2 separate regions of the Homo sapiens genome follow, and region 2 is linked to region 1. The links come from fine-mapping of genetic effects on gene expression. A gene starts in region 1. The other region holds a variant in brackets. All regions are shown on one strand. Distances are from middle to middle.

Region 1 (4,354 bases):
TCCATCTCCCCACACACTCTGGCTTTCCTCTCCTGCAGGACCCCAAAGGTCACAATAATAATACCTCAACCTGGTCTGAAGAGCACAGAGAAGGGCACCTCTCTCCATGGAGGTGACAGATGTTGTTTATCCTCCCATCTCCCTGCAATAACTTAAACCCAGACTGAAGATGGCAGGGGAATCAGGGACAATCTCTGGCCCTCACCTCTCTCTAGGCTCCGCTGGATATCCTGGGCCTGATCCTCTGTGAAACCCTGGGCCAAGCTTGCCCTCAGGATAATGAAGTTGCAGGTGACAGTCAGCTCCAAGGGAAGAACAGGAACAGCTGCAGGGAGCCCTGGAGCAACAATGTTGGTCTTACAGACTGCTCCCCCATGGAAGATCCTCCAAATAAAATCCCAACTCAGAGATCACCCCACTCCAACCAAAACAGCTACAATAAAGAACCCACCCTCCAGCCAATTAGCTAAGGATTTAAAAAAAGAACCCAACCTTTGGACAGAGAGTCTGGAAAGGGCAAAAAAGTTATCCAGATCAGACCATCTTGGAAACCATTTTTCAAATGCCACTCTGTGAGTGTGTAAGGAAGAGAGGGATTTGCCTGTACAAAGATGATTCCACTCCAGTCTCCTCTGTGCCTTAAACAGGACTCCCTGCCCCGAGTAATTATATCGATCCCAAAAACGCAGGAGCGGATGTTTCTCTGGCTATGGAAGAGGGGAACTGACCATCCTGGGGAGGACCCGCCTACCTTGCAGACTATGGAGGAGCCCTCTGAGCCCTTCCAGTGCATCCTGAGCCAACTGCTGTCGCCTCAGAGTCAGACCGGAGTTCTGAGCCACCTGCCACATGAGGGAGGGGTTGTCACTGAGGATCAATCCTTTTTTCTCCCCTTGCAGCAGTGGCAAGGGATGCATTCTCCAGTCATTTCTGGCTCTTTGGTCAAGCTCAGTCCCTCCCCATCGGTTGGGGTAAATCCACTGCAAACCCGCTTTCAGGGATCTTGAGGCTGCAAACCGAGGGTGCCAGCAACCGTGTTACCTTGGCCTGTCGAACGAGCCGGTCATTCTTTTCCCTCCACAGGTCCAGGCAGCTGGAGCCCACAGAGGTGGTCTGGCGGGACATGGTGGCCGAGGCTGGGCCCGGAGACCAGAAGCGGACTTAGGAAGGGTGAAGCTGGCCTGCCCAAGCTCCCAACCCCAGCGGGGAGGGGCCTGGGCACTTCTGCACCCCGCCGAGCTCCCCTGCTTCTCTCGGGGTCCCAATCCACCCGCCCAGGCTTTCCAGGACAGATGGGACGCTCTCTCCCCGCGGCCCGCCGGGCTCTCAACCTCGCCTCTGGTTGGCCGGGTCTGCGAAGCTCTGGGCTGCGGTTGGTCCTCTTGAAGAGTTAGTTCCCGCGGGAAACTCGGGGAGGAAACGAGTCAGCAACCCCAAACAGGCTTAGGCGGGCTAGAAGCCGGGGTCGTGTCTGACTGGGGCAGTCGCACGGCCGGCGGTGCGGCCCGCTCGGCTCTCGCGGAGGCCACAGCCTCGAGAAAGGGTGGGCGGGAGCGAGTTTCGGCCCCACAGTCCGTGGCTCGGCCCTTCCTCGCTGCCACACCCCCAGGTCCTCCTGGGTTCCCGCTTCCACCGAGGGCCGACTGCGAGGTGCATGCTGGGAGTCGTAGTACCGCACCGGGGCGGAACAGCTCCGCCCCGGCGGATGGTGTTTCCAGAAAGCGGTAACTGGAGACGAGGGCGCTCCGTAATCGTCCATCCTTTCTCTGCTCACTGTCGAGCACCAACACGCTCACCAAGGTCGGCTTTCTACCGCGTGTAGTCTGCTGGCAGTGCCGCTCTGTACTTGCACTGCTCAAAAGTACCTGCCCAATCATTTCAAATTAAATGGAGCTAGGAGAATTGAATATCCATATGCAAAAAAAAAAAAAAAAAAAGACAGGAAAGAAAAGAACGCGACCATACATACGTACATAAAATCAACTCAATGGATCACAAACTAAATATAAGAGCCAAAAATATAAAACTTCTAAAAGAAAACGTAAAGCAGCCTAACTAACATGGTGAAACCTTCTCTACAAAAATACAAAAATTAGCAGGGCGTGGTGTCGTGCGCCTGTAATCCCAGCTACCCCGGAGGCTGAGGCGGAAGAATCGCTTGAACCCGGGTGGCGGAGGTTGCAGTGAGCCGACATCGTGCCATTGCACTCCAGCCTGGGTGACAGAGTGAGACTCCGTCTCAAAAAAAAAAAAAAAAGAAAACGTAAGAGAACAGCTTTATGACCTTGGGTTTGGCAACAAGTTGTTAGACACAGCACTAAAAGCTTGTACAATTTAAAAAAAAGTTAACTTTATTAAAATTAAAAACTCTTGTACTACAAAGACATCATTAAGAAGTCATACGCTGGGGCCGGGCGCCGTGGCTCACGCCTGTGATCCCAGCACTTTGGGAGACCGAGGCGGGCGGATCACGAGGTCAGGAGATCGAGACCATCATGGCTAACACGGTGAAACCCCGTCTCTACTAAAAATACAAAAAATTAGCCGGGCGATGTGGCGGGCGCCTGTAGTCCCAGCTACTCGGGAGGCTGAGGCAGGAGAAAGGCGTGAACCCCGCGGGCCAGAGCCTGCAGTGAGCCGAGATCGCCCCACTGCACTCCAGCCTGCGCAACAGCGAGACTCCATCTCAAAAAAAAAAGAAAAGAAAAGAAAAGAAAAGAAGAAAAATCATAGGCTGGATGTGGCTCATGCTGTAATCCCAGCACTTTGGGAGGCTGAGGCTGGAGGATTCCCTGAAGCCAGGAGTTCAAGACCAGCCTAGGCAACAAAGATGGTGTCTTTTGTAGAGACATTATCTCTACAAAAAATTTAAAACATTAACCCTGGCACAATAACACACCTGTAGACCCAGCTACTTGGGAGGCTGAGGTGGGAGGAGCCCTTGAGCCTAGGAGTTCCAGGTTGCAGTGAGCCATGATCACACCACTGCCCTCCAGCCTGAGTAACAGAGTGAGACCCTGCCTCAAAAAAAGAAAGGTCACAGTCACAGAGTGGGAGAAACTACTTGCTAATTATATACCTCATAAGGGACTGGTATCCCTAACACATAAAAACTCCCAAAACTCAAGAAAAAGATTTTTAAAAACAATCTTAGCTGGGTGTGGTGGTTCATGCCTGTTATCCCAGCACTTTGGGAGGCTGAGGTGGGAGGATCATTTGAGCCTCAGAAGTTTAAGACCTGCCTGGGCAACATAGCAAAACCCCACCTCTACAAAAAAAATACAAAAATTAGCTGGGCATGGTGGCACACACCTGTAGTCCCATCTACTCGGGAAACTTAGGTGGGAGGATCACCTGAGCTCAGGGATGTCGAAGCTGCAGTGAGCCATGATTGAGCCACTGCACTCCAGCGTGGGCAACAAAGTGAGACCCTGTCTCAAAACAAAACAAAAAACAATTTTAAGATGGACCAAAAAAAAAAAAAAAGACATTTTACCAAAAAAGATCTACTAATGGCTAAGAAACACATAAAAAGATGCTCGGCATTATTAGCTATTAGAGAAACACAGTTAAAAACATGGCCAGGGCCGGGCCATGTTATGCCTGTAATCCCAGCACTTTGGGAGGCTGAGGTGGATGGATCACTTGAGGTCAGGAGTTCAAGACCAGCATGGCCAACTTGGTGAAACCTCGTCTCTACTAAAAATACAAAAATTAGGCAGGCATGGTGGTGCATGCCTGTAATCCCAGCTACCTGGGAAGCTGAGGTGGGAGAATGGCTTGAACCCGGAAGGTGGAGGTTGCAGTGAGCCGAGATCCTGCCACTGAACTCTAGCCTAGGTGACACAGCGAGACTTCGTCTCAAAAAATAAAAAAACGCTTCACACAGCCGGGCGTGGTGGCTCACACCTTTAATCCCAGCACTTTGGGAGGCTGAGGCAGGTGGATCACTTGAGGCCAGGAGTTTGAGACCAGCCAAGCCAACAGGGCAAAACCCTGTCTCTACTGCAAATACAAAAATTAGCTGGGCATGGTGGCAGACACCTGTAATCCCAGCTACTCAGGAGGCTGAGGCATGACAATCACTTGAACCTGGGAAACGGAGGTTGCAGTGAGCTGAGACCATGCCACTGCACTCCAGCCTGGGTGACAGAGTGAGACTCTGTCTCAAAAATAAATAAATAAAAATAAAAACACTATACACATACATACATAAAATGACTACAATAAAAACAGATTATACCAAGTGTTGGTGAGGATGTGTATGAGGAACCCTCATACACTGCTGGTGGGAATATAAAATAGTACACTCACTTCAGAAAAGTTTGGCAGTTTCTTAAAAAGTTAATCATAG
Region 2 (4,388 bases), 59 kb before region 1:
TTTCTTTATAACAGAATGATTTATATTCCTTTGGGTATTTACCCAGTAATGGGATTGCTGGGTCAAATGGTATTCCTGCCTCTAGATCTTTGAGGAATTGCCACACTGTCTTCCACAATTTACACTCCCACCAACAGTGTAAAAGTGTTCCTTTTTCTCTGCAACCTTGACAGCATCTGTTGTTTCTGGACTTTTTAGTAATCGCCATTCTGACTGGCATGAGATGGTATATCACTGTGGGTTTTCTGGGGGTTTTGTTTGTTTTGAGGCAGAGTCTCGCTTTGTTGCCCAGGCTGGAGTGCAGTGACACGATCTTGACTCACAGAAACCTACACCTACTGGGTTCAAGCAATTCTCCTGCCTCAGCCTCCTGAGTAGCTGGGATTTCAGGCATGTGCTACCATGCCCAGCTAATTTTTGTATTTTTGGTAGAGACAAGGTTTCACCATGTTGGCCAGGCTGGTCCCGAATTTCTGACCTCCAGTGATCCATCCACATTGGCCCCCAAGGTACTGGGATTACAGGCACGAGACACTGCTCCTGGCCTCATTGTGGTTTTGATTTGCATTTCTCTAATGATCAGTGATGTTGACCTTTTTTTCATACGGTTAACCATTTTTATAATCTGTAAATTTCAGATTTTCCTAGGTAAGAAACTTAAGATTAGATAAATGGTGTTTTGTTTACCAAAAATTCAGGATTTAGCTGTTTTCATTAACTAAACAATATTAAATGCCTTATATATCAAATTTTACATAAACAATTCTCTTTTGGGCTACATTCATAGCTTTACAACCTTCATGCCAAATGTTGACATCTAGCAGAGATCAATTCTGAAGCCATTTCTAATTCTACTTCACCAGTATTTTTAAAACCAGCTTATTTATTAAAGATTTACTTAAGTTGAGGCTGGGTGTGGTGGCTCACGCCTGTAATCCCAGCACTTTGGGAGGCCGAGGCAGGCGGATCATGAGGTCAGGAGATCGAGACCATCATGGCTAACACAGTGAAACCCCATCTCTACTAAAAATACAAAAAATTAGCCTGGTGTGGTGGCAGGCATCTGTAGTCCCAGCTACTCGGGAGGCTGAGGCAGAAGAATGGCATAAGTAAACCCGGGAGGCGGAGCTTGCAGTGAGCCGAGATGGTGCCACTGCACTCCAGCCTGGGGGACAGAGTGAGACTCCGTCTCAAAAAAAAAAAAAAAATGATTTACTTAAGTCACTTGAAGTTGAAAAAGCACTTGGTTTAAAGTCTCAATTTTCTAATAAAGTATTTGATTAAGTGCTTTTTTCTTTAAGCCAATTAATTAAAGCTCTTTTATATATTTTTAGTAATGAAACATCATATACATGACACATAAATATGTAGATGTATTAGACACGCAGGTAGAAGTAGATCTTATAGATTCATAAAACCTCTTTTTCCCTATTTTAGACTTCCAAATTCCTTTCTTTTCTTTTTTTTTTTTTTTGGCAGCAAAGAAAGAATTTAATAATCACAGGGCTAGCCAAGTGGTAATGAAATGGGAGGACTGGGAGGGGGCCTGAACAATCCCTGAGGAGGAGTAGAATAGCAGACGGAACACTGAGAAGTGATTTCCTTGAGGATAGATTTTCATGATGGAAAGGAAATGAGAGGTTCTAAGAGGTGGGCTAGCGGCTTGTAACCTACATGGAAGAGGCTATGAAATGATGACAGAATAGAATGGGCCTGTGAGGCTGGAAGGAGATATTTTCCTTGGTCTAAGAACCATTTGCCTTGTGTGGGAAGAGATTGATAGGTGGAAGTTTCAGTGGGGGAGTAGGTGGGAGTGACCGATGAGAAGGAGAAAAACTGGCCATGAGGGACAGAAGTTGGAATGCTAGCTGCTTTTTTAGCTACCTTATCAGCATAAGTGTTGCCCTGAGCGATGGGATCTGACGCCTTTTGATGGCCCTTGCAGTGAATGAATCCAGCTTCCTTTGGAAGTAAAGTGGCCTTGAGAAGAGTTTTTATTAAAGAGGCATTAATGATGGAGGACCCTTGC[G/A]TAGTGAGGAAACCTCTTTCAGCCCATATAACAGTATGGTGGTGCAGGATATGGAAGGCATATTTAGAGTCAGTATAAATATTGACACGTAGTCCCTTTGCAAGGGTGAGGGCTTGAGTTAAGGCAATGAGTTTGACTTGCTGAGAGGTAGTGGAGAGGGGCAGAAAGTATATGCATCAGGTATGAGGAAGAAAATAGATTTTGGAAGTTATGAGAACTGTAGAGAGTGAGTTGAGCATAGTTTGTGATTTTGAGGGCCTCTAAAAGTATTAAGGCAGTGGCAGCTGCCGCACACAGACATGAGGGCTAGGCTAAAACAGTAAGGTCAAGTTGTTTGGATAAAAAGGCCACAGGGCACGGTCCCAGTCCTTGTGTAAGAATTTTGACTGCACAGCCCTGCACTTCAGCTATGTGTAATGAAAAAGGCTGGGATGAGTTAGGGAGAGCTAGTGTGGGAGCAGCTTTTAGGGCTGTTTTTTAAGAAATGGAAAGGGGAGTGGGGAAAGAATTTAGGATTTATGGGGTCAGCTAGGTTTATCTAGAACAGAATGGGTTGTGGAGGGAGGTACTGAGGATAGGAGAGTCTATGGGTTTGGCACCACGGGGTAGATAGGCAAGACAATTTGGTTGATAAGGCGCAGATCCTGAACTAACCTGTAAGACTTGTCCAGTTTTTGGACAGGTAAAATGGGGAAATTGTAAGGAGTGTTTATAGGCTTTAAAAGGCCATGCTGTAACAGGCGAGTGATAACAGGCTTTAATGCTTTGAAAGCCTGCTGTGGGATGGGATACTGGTGTTGAGCAGGGTAAGGGTGATCAGGTTTTAATGGGATGGTAAGGGGTACGTCATCCATCGCCAAGGAGGGAGTAGAGGTGTCCTATACTTGTGGATTAAGGTGGGGAGATACAAAGAGAGGATGTGAAGGAGGCTTTGAACTGGGGGGAAAGGCAGCAATGAGGTGTGGCTGTAGCCCAGGAATAGTCAGGGGAGTAGATAATTTAGTTAAAATGTCTCGACCTAATAAGGGAGCTGGGCAGGTGGGGATAACTAAAAAGGAGTGCATTAAAGAATGTTGTCCAAGTTGGCACCAGAGTTGGGGAGTTTTAAGAGGTTTAGCAGCCTGGCCATCAATACCCACAACGGTTATGGAGGCAAGGGAAACAGGCCCTTGAAAAGAAGGTAATGTGAAGTGGGTAGCCTTCGTATTGATTAAGAAGGGGACGGACTTACCCTCCACTGTAAGAGTTACCCAAAGCGTCTGTGATGGTCCAGGAGGCTTCCGAGGTGATCAGGCAACGTCAGTCTTCAGCCACTGAGCCGAGAAGATCTGGGAAGGAGTCAGTCAGAGCCTTGGGCCAGTTAGACAGTCCAGTTTCCAGTGGGGTCCCACACAGATGGGACACGGCTTAGGAGGAGTCCCAGTTCTGTGGGCATCCCTTGGCCTAGTGGCCAGATTTCCAGCACTTGAAGCAAGATCCTGGGGGAGGAAGTCCTGAAGGAATGCCTGACTGCTGTGGCTTAGGCGTTTTGAAGTTTTTGTGTGCTGGAGATATGGCTGGGGTTTCTCACACAGCAGAGGCAAGTAATTGCAACTCTTTATTATTGTACACCTTGAAGGCGCGGTTAATTAGGTCCTGTTGTGGGGTTTGAGGACTGGAAGCTCATTTTTGGAGCTTTTTCTAATGTCGGGAGCGGACTGGGTAATAAAATGCATATTGAGAATAAGGCGGCCTTCCGGCCCCTCTGGGTCTAGGGCGGTAAAGCGTCTAAGGGTTGCTGCTAAGCGGGCCATGACCTGGGCTGGGTTTTCGTCTTTACCTCGGGTAGTTTTTAATTTTGTCATAATTAAAAGCTTTGTGTGCTGCCTTTTTAAGCCCTTCAACTAGGCAGGAAATCATGTAATCTCGCCTAGCTATACCTGGGGAATCTGCCTGATAGTTCCTTTGGGGGTCCTCTCGGGGAACTGCTCTGATGCCTTCCTGGAGGCCTGGCTCATGAAGCCAGCGGTTGTCAGCGTGAGACTGGGCTAGAGAAAAAACTCTTTCCTGTTCATCTGGGGAGAGGGTGGAAGTCAGGATGACATTTAAGTCACTGCAGGTTAACTTGCAGGACAGAGTTAGATATCGGAATTCCTGTATATATTTAGTGGGGTCTGATGAGAAAGAGCCCAAACACTGGCTGATTTGGGAAAAGTCTGATACAGAAAAAGGCACATGTACCCAGACTATGCCTTCAGCTCCAGCCACTTCTCTAAGAGGAAATTGTTGGGCAGGTGGGGGAGAGCTAGTCGCAGAACGAAACTGTAAAGCAGACCGGGTGTGAGGAGAGGAAGTGATAAAAGGATTATAGGGTGGGGGA

What was found. PIP is the estimated chance that this variant, and not a neighbour inherited with it, causes the effect. A credible set is the group of variants that fine-mapping cannot tell apart.
Region 2: its variant is the best candidate, but not a certain one, in a credible set for the expression of FANCG in blood mononuclear cells (TOPMed, PIP 0.52).

Annotation. Positions count from the first base shown.
Region 1 is chr9:35,078,400-35,082,753 of GRCh38, forward strand. FANCG (FA complementation group G) reads right to left here and starts at 1,543. Exons shown (of 14, transcript NM_004629.2): 1 at 1,042-1,543; 2 at 752-842; 3 at 206-337. The coding sequence starts at 1,125. RefSeq lists enhancers at 565-1,172, 2,389-2,995 and a silencer at 1,248-1,413.
Region 2 is chr9:35,019,272-35,023,659 of GRCh38, forward strand. It overlaps LOC105376025 (a long non-coding RNA gene), which reads right to left. Exons shown (of 4, transcript XR_929579.3): 2 at 3,261-3,357. Among named protein-coding and RNA genes, the nearest start is that of SPATA31G1, 21 kb to the right of the region's middle. The variant G/A (reference allele first, on the strand shown) is at 2,030.